2 linked regions of the Homo sapiens genome follow. The protein of the gene in region 1 purifies or fractionates together with the protein of each later gene. This does not show direct contact. Each region holds a gene or a part of one and is shown on either strand. Other genes may lie near its edges.

Region 1 (7,573 bases):
AGATAGTGAGGACCAACTGTACTAACTCATTAAAAAGTAAAAGCCCGCCAAATAGTTGAGGAGGGCCATTGATGTGGTTTGGATATTTGTCCCTGCCCAAATCTCATGTTGCACTGTAATCCCCTGTGCTGGAGGTGGGGCCTGGTGGAGGTGTTTGGGTCATGGCAGGGGGGCGGATCCCTCATGGCTTGGGGCTGTCTTCACGATAGTGTGTTCTCAAAAGATCTGGTCATTTAAAAATGTGTGGCACTCCCTCTGGCTTGCAACTGCTTTCGCCATGCGACATGCCTGCTCCCCTTTTGCCCTCCGCTATGATTGTGAGCTCCCTGAGGCTTCACCAGAAGCTGAACAGGCACCAGCACCATACTTTCTATAAAGCCTGTAGAACCATGAGCTAATTAATTAAACCTCTTTTCTTTATAAATGACCCCATCTCAGGTATTTCTTTATAACAGTGCAATAATGGCCTAGTACAGCAATCAAATATGACATTAGCCTTATCGGCATTGCATTAATTTTTTTTTTTTGCAAGGAGAATGTCATTTTAAATTTCTGGTGTATTTAAAAAATGGAACTCAAAAGGGTCTCTGGCCTGCCTCTGAGTATCTAGAAGCTTAAGAGACACTGGGAGTTTTGTTGCTCCTGATATGCTGTTTCTGTCCAGGCTGGGAGATGTTCCCTCTCCCACTCTCCCTACTAATATTTCGGAGACACACTATGAATATGCTTTATCAGCTCTGGTCTGCTTATAATATGACTGTTGGATGGGAGAGGAATAAACTATCTTCTTTAAGTTTACTTAACTTACTACAACAGAAAACTCCTCCCTAATGACGGAATTAGTCAAGAGTCATACCTTGACTCTTGAGTTAACCAAGAGTGACTGTGTTGATGATAACCATTAACTCAAACCGAGGACTTTCTGGAGTTAGATACTGCATTCCCTGTACATCATCTCCATGAACTTCCATGGCCACCCTCCGAGATGGGGATCTACTTTCCAGGTTTAAAATCTCCGAGCCTCAGACAGTTGAAATCACAGCTGGTCACAATTTGAACCCAGAACTGATTTCAGAGTCCAAGCCCTCCCCATCACACTAAATAAAGGACAAAGTATTTCTATCAAGCCAAAAATCAAGACATGGGACCCTGAAGTGCTTTATTATCAGGACTTATTGGAAGGGTTTCCCAGTTGCTTCCAGGCAGGTGAGTTGATTTGGGGGTCCAGTTCTTCAAATCTGTGAGGCTTTTTCTTTCTAATGTCTGAGTCCCCTGAGGAGAAAAAAATCAAATGGGAGCCCACAAGTTCAGGTCTTTCTTGTAAATCAGGCAGTTTTTAGTAGACTTCCCAATAGGCTTCCCTGGAGTCATGACTTGAAGGTCCTTAGAAAGATATACAGTGATTTTATTGCTTTGAAACGTATGGCAGGTTCTTCTAGGGAGCACCTCTCCAACAGACGAACAATCAAGAAACTGACCAATGAGGAATGTGGCTTCTTAAAAACAGCAGGGAGAGCTTCTACCTAGAGCAGCATTTCACTTATTGCAATGAGGTCTTCCTGCTGAAGGCTGCAAAGAGGAGAAACACAAGTTATCACATGGGGATTCTCGTAATATGTGCATTCAGTCTCCAAGATCCCACAGTCACCATATGATGAAAATATTCCCGAGTGAATCGATCCATTTATAAATTGGCTGTCACCCAAAATCTCCCCACAATGAACTTTAGAGTGGCACTATCCACAAGAAACATTACTGGAGCCACCTATGCAATTTAACAATGTATAGCAGCTACATTTTTAAAAAAGGAACTTGGCCAGGCACAGTGGCTCACACTTGTAATCACAGCACTTTGTGAAGCTGAAGCAGGAGGATCGCTTGAGGCCAGGAGTTTGAGACCAACCTGGGCAACATAGAAATACCTCATCTCTACAAAAACATTTAAAACATTAGGTATGAATGCACCACTGCACTCTAGCCTGAGCAACAGAGCAAGACCCTGTCTCTAAAAAGTAAATAAAAATTTAAAACTGGTAAAATTACTTTTAATAATAAATATTTTACGTAACCCGGTATTCCAAAATATCATCTCAACATGTAATCAAAATTTTAAAATACTGATGAGATATTGTATATTCTATTTTTTTTTTTTTTTTTTTTTTTTTGGTGCTGTGCTTTTGAAGCCCAGTGTGTTTTATGTATTACAGCACATCTTGGTTTGGACAGACCACATAGTGGCCAGTGGCTGCCATATTGGACAGCACTGGTGTAAGAGGGTCCATCTCTCACTCCCACATCAATGTCCAATGGTTTCTCATTCAACTGGAAAGTGAAATTGGAAATCTTGTGAAAGATGAAGAATTATGAATGTGGTACGTTGAACTGCTGGGCCCACCCACAAGACATCAACAAATGAAGGTGTGGAAGGGTTAAACCAGTTAACGTTGAACAAAGGACAATGGATATGATGAGTTACAAGCTGAGTTGTATCCCTCCACAATTCACATGTTGAAGTCCTAACCTTTAGTACTTCAGGGTGTAACTTATTTGGAAACTAGATCATTATAGAAGTTAAAACGAGGTCATAAGGGTGGGCCCTAATCTTACTAACCTGTCCCTATAAAAGGGAAATTTGAACACAGTGACACCCAGAGGGAAGATGATGTGAAGACAGAGAGAGAAGACAGCCATCAGCAAGCCAAGGAGAGAAGTCTGGAATGGATCCTCCCCTCACAGCCCTCAGAAGGAACCAAGCCAGCCAGCCTCTCAATCTCACACTTTTAGCCTCCAGATCTGTGAGACAATAAGTTTATGTTGTTTAAGCCCTCCAGTCTGTGGTACTTTGTAATGTAGCCCCAGCAAACTAAAACATGGGTTGGCTGGTGGCATTAGAACAAGTTGCCCATGAAAAGGTTACAGGCAGCCTATAGGACAATTGAAGATGCATTCTACTTTCTGCCTGCACTGTGCATCTAGTGAAGAAAAAAAAAAAAAACACCTCAATAACTATCAGTGATTCATGGTGTCATGGAGGCTCCCTCTGCACATGTCTTGGGGAAAAGAGAGGATAAACGGTGGATAGTGGAAGTTCAAGCCTCCATCCCTTATTATCTGTGTAATGGGCCAACACACCTCATTCCTTGAGTTCCTGGCAAGTAGAACTTTCTCCACTAAAGTTTCTGACAAAGGCCTTCTCCAAATAAGACCCAATGAGACATTTGGGATTCATTGCCTCCTACTTTCTAGAAACAAATAGAAAAGGCAGGAAGCACAGCTAACAACATTGGTGGCCAGCTGAAGGAGTTTACACACCCTACCATGACCCTGGTAGAGTAGAGACAGCATGAGTTGAAGCCTGCTACTCAGAATCCACTGCAACTAAGAGTGTGTGTGTGTGTGTGTGTGTGTGTGTGTGTGTGTGTGTATGTATGTGTGTATGTGTGTGTTTTCTGCAGTTCCAGTCACAGATCTGCCTGCCACACAGTGGAGCCCTCTCTTGGACTCTGAATGCATAGCCCAGCAAAGCCAAGCAACTGAATCTCACCATCAGAACAGCTGAGAGCAGCTCCATCAAAGCAGTCAGTGGTACATGTGATCAATTTGTTTTTTGTATTTCTGGGCTACAAAATGTCTCTTAAGTTTCATCATTGGACCTATCGAGAAAGGAGAAATCAATTGAGTTGTGGAGATAAAAGAAAATTACACACACCCATGCATGACCAGGCAACAGAGTCCCATGCCTGGGGCTAGGCTGGGTGGCTGGCTGTGCCATTGACTTTCAGGGTGTGTAACTTTTGCCATCTGTATGGGGATGATAAAACTTCCATGTGATCCTTCAGCTGTGGTGAGGATTCTGTGAGCTGGAAGGTGAAGAGCATGGTGCATTCTGTGCCTGATGTGGACTGTGCACCCAATGGAGGAGGGATATCATCATCTCAAACCATACCCCTATCCCCATTTTACAGGTGAGGAAACTGGGGCATAGAGAGGACCAGTTCCTCTGAGGTCAGCCAGCAAGTGCACGGCAGAATCAAGTCTCAAACTGGGAGTTGTCTGCTCCCTGAGCCCAGGACTTTCATTGAAAGCCTCTGAGTCACCAGGGGCATTGAAGCCCCTCTGGGTGTCTCAAGCAACCCCACAAGGACTGTGTTTTCAACTTATAGATGAGAAGACCACCAGCCTGGACAACATGGCAAAACACCATCTCTACAAAACAAAAAGAGGATAGCGGCCAGGCACGGTGGCTCACGCCTGTAATCCCAGCACTTTGGGAGGCCAAGGCGGGTTGATCACGAGGTCAAGAGATCAAGACCATCCTGGCCAAAATGGTGAAACCCTGTCTCTACTAAAAATACAAAAAATTAGCTGGACGTGGTGGCACGCACCTGTAGTCCCAGCTACTCGGGAGGCTGAGGCAGGAAAATCGCTTGAACCTGGGAAGTGGAGGTTGCAGTGAGCCGAGATTGCGCCACTGCACTCCAGCCTGGCGACAGAGTAAAACTCCGTCTCAAAAAAAAAAAAGAAAGAAAGAAAGAAAGAAAATAGCCACGCATGGTGGCGCGCACTCATCCCAGCTACTCAGGAGGCTGAGGTGGGAGGATCGCTTGAGCCTGGGAGTTCAAGGCTGCAGCAGCAAGCTGTGATTGTGCCATCGTACTCCAACCTGGGTAACAGAGCAAGACTCTGTCTCAAAACAAACAAAAAAAAAACAAGACTCAGTGGGACAAGTCACTTCCCTGTGTAGAGGGGACAGGATTTGAACCCAGGTTGTTCATTGCCACATACTTGCTCTGATTCTTCCATCCACACCGTCAGATTACAGCCGAGCGCTGACAGCAAACTCGCAAATGAAAGTACATTAGTAGAATCCAGTATCCCCACTCTGGAGTGAGCCCTTCCCTCATGGGGGAAGAGAGGCAAAAATAAAACATACAGAGACTAATTTCATGTTCTGATGCTTTAAAGAAGACAGGGTGGTATAATGGGGGTGGCAGCAAGCTACTGGGTGAAATATTAAGGACGATGGCAAGCCACTTTAGCCAGCATGGTCAGGGAGGGCTGAAACCATCCCTGAAAACTTTATAATATTAATCAGAGAAGAAGGGAGGGGGACAAACTAAAATCAGCCACACTTACAGCACACTCAACATTCATCATTAGGTCAGTTTGCTCTCTAACCCCTTCCTCATAGCTAGCTGTTTGCCTATTGCCCCAGAATCACACACACACAAAAAACCCAATCACAAGATATAGTTCCCCTTAACTGCTCTACAGATAACATATTAAGCATTGTGAAAGGTCAAGTTTTCCATCTGAGATATCCTTTCAAGTCCTGCATACCAGTGAAACTACTGATGCCCACTGATCTGAAGGACCCCACGGGAGCTGACTTACCAAAGAATGCAGCTTCCACATCCGATGATTTCATCCCCTTTACCTCAACCAATCAATGACTCTAATTTTCCAGCCCTTCACCCCCAAAGATCCCCTTAAAACCCCAGCCCAGAATTCCTCAAAGAGAGATTTGAGGGTTCCTTCCATCTCGGTTGGCTTCCCTGCAAGGGAATTTAATTTCCTTTTTTATTTTTGTTTGTTTGTTTTTTGTTTTTGAGACAGGGTCTCACTGCATTGCCTAGGCTGGAGTGCACTGGCATGATTGTGGCTCACTGCAGCCTTGACCTCCCTGGGCTCAAGCGATCCTCTCAGTCTCCTGAGTAGCTGGGCACCGCTACCATACCCAGCTAATTTTTGTATTTTGTGTAGAGTTAGGATTTCACCATGTTGCCCAGGTTGGTCTCAAACTCCTGGGCTCAAGCAGTCTGCCCAACTCAGCCTCCCAAAGTGTTGGGATTACAGGCGTGAGCCACTGTGCCTGGCCATAATTAAACTCTGTCTTTGCTGCATCCCCTGCTGTCTCAGTGTATTGGTATATTACTGTGCAGTGGGCATACAAACCTGGGGGTCCTGTAACAAGGCTGCTCTGAGGGGGAAGAGGCCTGTAGGGTGAGACCTGGACAATGAGAAGAAGCCATCCAGGCAAGGAATTGAGGGGGAAGGGTATTCCCAGGGAGGCAGACTGGCAGGTGCAAAGGCCCTATAGTTGGACAAAGCCCAGAGAGCTGCAGGAACATCAAGAAAGCCCATAGAGTTGGTGCAGAGTGAATGAAAGGTCAGCAGGCGAGAGATTGTATAGAGCTATAGTAAGGAGGTTGGATTTTATTTCCAAGATGAGGAGCTGGGGACCAGTTAGCTGAAGGTGGCAGCCTCCCTCTCCTGGTCCCTGGCTGGTTTCATAGACCCTCTGACCTTCAGAAAAGGACCTGTCTCTTCAGAGCCCACACAGTCCCAGATGCTAACAAGGGACCAGCCTCCAAATGTCATGGCCACTCACCTAGCTCTCCACCATAGATGGAAAAGTCCTTCTCCAAGATGACCCACTTTTCAATCCTCTGTGCATTGTTCATGGCTTCCTGGTTCACAGCATTGATGCCTTGCTGGATGGCCTTGTAGACCAGGGGGTCTTGCTGCTTCACAATCTCAGTCACGGTGGATGCCTGGCTGCCCAGACCCCGACAGAAGTTGATGGCCTCGAAGTTCAGCTTGTCCAGAGGTTCTCCGCTCATCTGATTCATCTCACACTGCCCCCAGACACCTCTGTCACCACCCATGCTCCTTGACCAGCACCCCTCCCCAGGCCCACAGACCAAGAAGTGGGTCTTGAACCCACAGATGCATCCTCTTGACCCTGGGGTGGGGCCAGGGAACCCAAGACCGGCTGCAGAGACTTCCCCCAATGACAGCAAACCCATGTTACCTTCAGCGTCAGCAACATGCTCAGAAACTTCAGTTTATCTCCTACTAACATGGCGTTACTGATGATGGGGATCTTCTTCTTAACCAAGGTCTCAACAGGAATGGGGGGCACATTTTCACCACCAGCAGTGATAAGGATTTCTGGAACAGAGCTTGGCTTGGTACATGTCCAGCCATGACAACGTGGAACCCCCAGTTTGAGACCAGCCTGGCCAACATGGTGAAACCCCGTCTCTACTAAATATACAAAAATTAGCCAGGTTTGGTGGTGTGCACCTGTAATCCCAGCTACTCGGGAGGTTGAGGCAGGAGAATCACTTGAACCTGGGAGGCGGAGGTTGCAGTGAGCTGAGATCATGCCACCGCACTCCAACCTGGGCAACAAGAGTGAAACACCATCTCAAAAAAAAAAAAAAAAAAACCTAGTGGCCAGGCACAGTGGCTCACACCTGTAATCCTGCCACTTTGGGAGGCTGAGGTGGGCAGATCACTTGAGCCCACAAGTGCTAGACCAACCTGGGCAACACAGTGAAATTGGGTCTCTGCAAAAAAATAGCCGGGTGTGGTGGCACACGCCTGTAGTCCTAGTTACTCAGGAGGCTGAGGTGGGAGAATCACCTGAGCCTGGGAAGTTGAGGCCACAGTGAGTCATAATTGGACCACTGCATTCCAGCCTGGCCAACAGAGCGAGACCTTCTCTGAAAAATAAAATAGTACCAGCACAGAGGAAAACTCAAGAAAAGAATTTTAAAATTCCTTA
Region 2 (7,000 bases), on another chromosome or scaffold:
TAAAGTGACAACTCAAAGGCTAAGTTTACCCTACAAGTGTTTGGCACCTAAAAAATTTGTGAGTGACTTGCCCATATTTAAAATCAGATTGCACATATAAAAATCTAGATTTCTGGCTTCTCTAAAAATCAGAGAGTCTTAGGCCCATAGTCTCACATCATCATAACTGGCAAAGCTGAGCACTAGTTGACCCCTTTACGGGGGGCATCACTCTCAAGTGCCCCTCAGTCTTCACCCCTGCTTCCCAGATCACCTCATTTACAATAACCCCCTGCCCTCATAGCTTTAATTCAGCCAGTCCTTTGTGTCAGTGGTTTCTTCTTACTTTTTTTCCTTCCTTCTTTGCTTCCTCTTTCCCTTCCTTCCTTCCTTCTTTTCCTGCTTTTTGGCTGAAGCTTCATTTCCACCTATAAAATTTTATAGAGGAATTTAGTCTACAAAGTAGATAAGAAAGGACAGCTGTGATAGAAGGATAGAAGCCCCCCCTCTTCCCCCTTTCAAGCTCATCTCCTGGCTTCCCTCATGGCCACCACAGGCAGACCTTTGTAGATGCCCTTGGCTCCACAGAGAACGAGCTGACATCACCGCTCCAAGATATCTTTTGCAACCAAATTTTGTATGAGAACTGCACTGCATAGTTGGAAGATGAATTTTCTGCCAGGGACCTGAAATACAGGAATTCTGTATTACAAATGAAAGGCAGGTCATGTGTTTCAGTAATCAAGGAAGCCTAAGTAAGGTTGACCTTGTGTATGGCAGTGTAAAGCCAACCCAGATATGTGCCTGAATAAAAGGCCACCCCACTCTCATTGCAAAGATTGGCTAACCTGCAAATCTCAGAATTTGTATGTACATATGCACATATATACACACGTATGCACACATCCTTTGAATAAAGCAAGACATAATACTTAAGTAGTCATCGTGGCCTAGAATGAGTTGGTTTTCTTAAGCATTCACCTGCTTCTTTTCATTAGGTCGATGACAGCATTCAGAGGAGACGGCAAAGTTATAAAATTATTTGCAAAGCACATAAAGGTAAGCAAGGGCCTGTGTGATCCCTAAAGGCCTCTCCCAGACCTCAGCTTTTTTCCTTTCAACCTCTTCTCCTAATCTCCTTAGCACATATTTTATTGAGTTCCTTCCTTATGTAACATTTAACAACTTTTCTGGTTTTTTAAATTCTATGCTTCTGCATACCTACCTCCCCAGTATGGCAGTCGCTACTGCCATGCTCTGTCCCTGTATAGAACCTGAGGCTTGACCCTTTGATTCCTTGAAGATTACCAGTTTTCTAGGGATATGCTCATCTCTGCCCTGGAAGTCGACCCTACACAAGGGTAGCTCCATTTGTATTTCACTTTCTTAACTTTGAGATAAAATGTTCTAAATTGGTGTAAGATAGCACTTTCTTAATGACTTCCTTTTCTTTCTTCTCTTTCATCTTGGAACAGGTCCAGGCGCAGGTAAAGTTGCTGGAGAAGCGTGTGGTGCACCTGGGTGTAGGAACTCCGGGGAGAATTAAAGAACTTGTTAAACAAGGTATGACAAGAGGGCAGTGATACTCTTGCCCAGGGCTGGGAGTTTGCCTTACCTACATGTGAGTCTCAGAAACTAAATTCAGGATATACAAAAACCAGACCTCTGTGTTAATTCAGGAATTGGAAACTCAGCCTTTAATCTCTGAAACCAACCAGCAAGTATAGCACAATAGGGAATGATAAGGACTGTGGCAAACTGAAGTACGTGTGCCCACCTAAACAGAGTCAAATTCCAGCTGCTATAAGCAGGTTAGTGGTTCCACATAGCCTTCATTCCACCAGTGTGCAGCCACTGCTTGAGTTGAGCAGTTCCCTGTCACTCCACTGAGTCTTGGGGAGACTCCCATTTTGAGGGCTGGTATATAAAACATACTAAAACAAAAAACGTAGTTTCCATGAATGTAATGCAGGCATTCCATAATAGTTCTTCCCAAATGTGTTTCTCTTTTAGTGCTTTACAGAAAGTATTCTAGACAACATCCACTGGTGGGTTTTTATAGTTTGCCAACTTTCTCAAAGCCAGTAGCCTAAGAACCTGCTAACCTGCCAATTATCTTATTACCTCTTCTACCTACCAGGCAGATTGAATGATTTCTTTTCAATACTTATTTCCAAATTACTTATGTATTATATAATAGAGCTTTTTTTTTAAATAACTGTCTGGAGCTATTCTCAGATTATTTTATATATCTAAAAGTAATGTGTTCATCAGTGTAGTAACTCATTATAGAGATGGTCATTTGCCAGGGAGCAACAAAAGCTAAAACTACTGTTGTTTCTCTCCAGATGAAAATCATCCAGGGTTAGTTGAACCCACTATATGCAGAGTTTTGTACAAATACCAACAACTAACAAATTTGGCTGCCCCTGACAAGGAAGGGAAACAACACTTTCGAGTTCCTACTTGTACGCAGCGCTACGCTTGACACCCTTACATATGTTACCTCATTTAGCACTCACAGCATCCTTACAGGCTAGCCTTTTTATTTTTTATGAGAGAGAACTGAAGCTCAGAGGGTTAAGTCACCCTCCCCAAGGTCTGTCAGTCTAGGCTCTCCTGGTTCTAGAGCCTTTTCCCCTCAAGGAGCTCCTGATCCAGCTGAAGAACTAAGTGTACATAGACTGAGATCGATAGCATGAGGCAGTAAATGCCAAGAGCCAAATGAGCACTTCTAAGTCCTACAAGAGTTGAAATGAGAAAGAGATAGTTATGCTGGCCTGAATCTGCAGGGCAGGGTCTTTAACTGATCTTTGAAGTGTGGGGAGGATTGAAATAGGCCGGGAGGGTCAGAGGAAGCATTCATGAATGGGAGAACAGCCCAGTGAGATTCTCAGAAAGCAGGCACATGCACATGGTATATCACAAGGAATTGATGAGGAGGTAAAACAATGTTGCAGTTAAGAGCCCCTGTGATGGACTCAGACCTCCAGATTCAAATCCCAGGTCTAGCAACTTACCAGCTCTGTGACCTTGGCAAGTTACTTAACCCTTCTCAGCCTGTTTCTTTGTGCGAACAACAGGGATAGTAATAGTAGCTACTTAGAGGTTTGTTATAAAAACAAAATGCCAATAAAGAGCTCAGCACAGTAAGTGTCACACCCTAAACACTTAACAAATATTAGTTATTTATTAAAGAGACCAACTTTCTTGCTTGGAAACTTCGTGGGCTCTAGTAGCAGCTGATGTAACTGGAAAGAAATTTGAGGAAAGTCCTTGAACAGTAAGCTGAGGAGTTTGGATTTTTGTCTTGTGGACATCCTATGGCATTTGAAAGTTAAGGAACAGATGAGAGGCACCAAGGCCTTCTATGAGACACAGATTTGGGAGTAATTGGCTGGGTATCAGAAGCTAAGGATGGACTCTCAGGTTGGTTCCTGCCTCCCTAACAGCTTTTAGCTAAAGATTCACCACCAGCCCCTCCTGGAATCCAGATTTTTTTGTGTGTCACCAGACTTCCCCAGCCCCCACCCCATGCAACAGGATTACTCTTCTCTGTATTTAAAAGAAAGAGAGGAAGAGAAAAAGCAAAGCTATCCAGACTATTGAAATCAGATCTCTACAGAGTTGTGAGACCTCAATATGAAGGCTTATTTCATATGGAAAAATCATTTAAAGGGCGATTTTTAAAAAAATATTAATGAAAATAATTTTTACATCTGATTCTAATTGGATGAATGGTTTCATATTCATTAACCACAGGTATTTGCCTACATACAAAGTGTTTAAAGAGAATAGTCCCAGCACCCTAAAAGTGAAAAATCTAACAGAGTGACACCAATAGCATATATGTAGCTGTTTATGACTTAATAAGATGTTTATACGTTTGATATATAAGGAGAGTTTTCAGACATTGAAAGATATCCCATGACATTGGGATGTATACAATTACAGGCAATTGTGTTGTTTTAATTTAGTAATGAAGGGGATTTTCTGACTATAGGAGCCTTTGAAAATGCAAAAATGTACAGAGAAGAAAACAAGTCACTTTAGAAGCAATCTCTTGTTAATAATGAATGTATTTCCTTTGAGTCTTTTTTCTATACAATTTGTATGTTTATTTTTATACAACAGAGATTGATTATACTGCATCTCATAACTTTATAACCTACCTTTTTCACTTGCTATATCTCATGAGGACTTACCTTCCTTGTCATGAAGCACGTTTAATTTTTCATTTGTATAGCTACACTATTTACAATATTCTATTGTAAATTTATTTTTTTGCAATTCTATTATGGTAGACTTTGGGTTGTTTCTAAATTGTTGCTATTATAAATAATGTGGCAATGATCATTTTTGCAAGTAGCTATGTTTATGTTTCTGATGCTTCACTGGGATATGTCATAGAAGGAAATTTATTTTATCAAATAAAAGCATTTTGGCTGGGCACCGTGGCTCATGCCTATAATCCCGGCACTTTGGGATGCTGAGATGGGCAGATCACTTGAGGTCAGGAATTTGAGATCAAATAAAAGCATTTTGAAGCTGTTATAATATTATGCTCAGTTTCATTCCAGAGAGGCTGTACCTATTTGCTTTCCTGAGAGCAGTTATATTAAGGGAAGACTGATGATCAACTCATTGTCTTTTCCAGTTCACTATTTTTATTTTAATTTTGCAGAGAGTTTTTAATAACAGGCATTTGAATTATAAAAAGCATGAACAAGTATTAGGGGCAAAGAGGAAAATATTTAAATACTACAGGGAAAAGCTGAGGGGAAGTGCCACAGGAGAGGAAGGCTGCAGGTACTGTTAACACAAGAGACGTGGAACAGCTTGGAGCAGAGGCAAGAACTGACTCTATGCCCAACTGTGAGACATCTGAGGACTACACATTCCCTGAGGTCCCCTTCAGCCCTCACAGTCCATAATTGTCTTCTAGACAAACAGGAAAGCAGAGAATGGAGTCATTAAGTGATTTACCAACCTCATCGAAGGATAGCTGAATAGAGCCTATTCATCTCAACTTCCTTTTCTGCCTAAAAGGAACCACCCAACCCTGTCCTCATCTTTCTCCCCACTCACCTCCTGAGAGCCCTGCAGACTCCATGGACTCAACTCCTTTGAAAGGCAACTACCCCAAACTGCGGGATTTAACTTAGCAAATCCCTGTCAGGAATGAGACTATAGCCTCTGGGGCTTCATGAAATGGATGCCTGGCCAGCGTGTGAGCATTTGAGGAGCTTAGCAAGAGCAGTTTCTCTGCTTTCCTCAGGAGGAGTGATGAGATGATAAGAAGAGCAAGTCTCAGAGTGCTGCATTTGTTTTCCATCAGGGAAGGGCAGCACTTAATGTGCGGAGATTAGTTACTGGGGGAGAGGACAACATATGAGACAAAAAGTAACCCGGAGAATAAAAAATCATTTTAATAAGCTTATGTCATGAGGTCTTTACTACAGCAACTCTCTTCCTGTCTCTTTCAGGTGGCCTTAATTTGAGCCCCTTAAAATTTCTGGTTTTTGACTGGAACTGGAGAGATCAGAAGTTGAGGAGAATGATGGACATTCCCGAGGTACCACGTAACCAGCAGTTGCCTTTAATCATTTTTTCTCTATTTGAACTTGGTTCAAACACAGTAATAAAGTCTTTGACATGAGGAGCCAGCACATGTTAGATTTTGAAATGATTTCTATCTTTTTTAACTCTGAGCTAACTATAATTATAGAGGCCACCTCATCCCCTTACACATAATTGTATCCTTTCCATGTGTTTCATGGGAATCAGCTCTGTTGCTCCTTAAATGACCAATGGCCTCTCCTCACTAGGGACCATTTTGAGAAACAAGAAGATCTGAAGGACCTGCACTTCTCCTGTGCCTTTCTTTGTAGACACACTCGTCTTTATCTTTCATTCTTATATGTGCACTTTTGGCTCGGGTTAGGGGAGCAGGGGTACAAACTTGCCTCTGCCAGCATCTCCACATGGATTCCCAAGAACCCACTTACTTAATTTAGAAAGATATTTTGGTTCATGGGGTGGGGAAATTTTTTGATGTCTCAGTTGATCAGAATTGAATGACCGAATGCATTTATGGGCACAGTATTAGCTCATTATATATTTTTAAAAACAATCCATTATCATCATAATGTGAAAAAATTACTTTGCCACCTACCACGCTATTATGGGGCTAATTTTTCAATCTAGCCTGATGCTTCACAGTAGCTGTTAGGAAAAAAAATGATTACCAGTCACTAACCAAGAACAAATCATGGCAGTAACTATCAAAGAGGCTTGGAAATACTCTTCCAAACATGCTGAATGAATTAATTTATCACATAAAGCTATATCTCCAGATTGACCAAACCTGATTATAATTGATCAGTGAGTTATTTCAGACATCAGTTCAGGTTAAAAAACAATTTGCTCAGTTACACACACGCACATGCACACACACATACACAGTCGTGCATTTTGTCCCCTGACTTGACTGGTTTCTTAAAACTGGTTTAACAAATTTGATATCAGGCATGAGGCCATAGTTGATTATTTCAGTTATAATATTAAATTTGACTAATCTACTAAGTTTCTAATTCTAATAATGAGAAATGTCCAAAAACATCTTGTCACCCATAGTTATTTTTATTCTGTTGCTGTCATTCTCAGCAGTTATCCTAAGGCAATAAAATCCTATACTGAACTATTGTATATAATCTTGTTTACAGAAAGCACACTGTGGAGTCCTTGAAACACCTTTGTATAGCATTTTATTTTGAATGGCTGCAAACAAAAGGGCACTTTAATGAAACTAATGTTTTATATAGTACCTCCTCCTTCATTTATATAAATATTTTAATTCTGCCAGGCATGGCAGTGCACACCTGTAATCCTAGTGCTTTGGGAGGCCAAGGTGGGAGGATTACTTGAAGCCAGGAGTTCGAGACCCGCCTGGACAACAAAGCAAGACCCTGTCTCTACAAAACAATAATAATAATAGGCCAGGCACAGTGACTCACACCAG

The links. The genes of interacting proteins can lie anywhere in the genome.
Region 2: the proteins of ACSBG2 (region 1) and CMSS1 purify together in Homo sapiens (affinity purification with mass spectrometry; 2 studies listed by BioGRID and IntAct, with this or other methods). This does not show direct contact.

What each region holds. Positions count from the first base shown.
Region 1 is NC_000019.10:6,186,664-6,194,236, reverse strand, and holds the end of ACSBG2 (long-chain-fatty-acid--CoA ligase ACSBG2), read right to left. Parts: intron 6,955-7,573; coding exon 6,815-6,954; intron 6,639-6,814; coding exon 6,392-6,638; intron 3,654-6,391; coding exon 3,580-3,653; 3' UTR 3,545-3,579; intron 1,570-3,544; coding exon of another isoform or gene 1,541-1,569; 3' UTR 1,146-1,540; downstream 1-1,145. UniProt on the Homo sapiens protein: Catalyzes the conversion of fatty acids such as long chain and very long-chain fatty acids to their active form acyl-CoAs for both synthesis of cellular lipids, and degradation via beta-oxidation.
Region 2 is NC_000003.12:100,170,862-100,177,861, forward strand, and holds part of CMSS1 (protein CMSS1), read left to right. Parts: intron 1-977; coding exon 978-1,038; intron 1,039-1,454; coding exon 1,455-1,542; intron 1,543-5,465; coding exon 5,466-5,554; intron 5,555-7,000.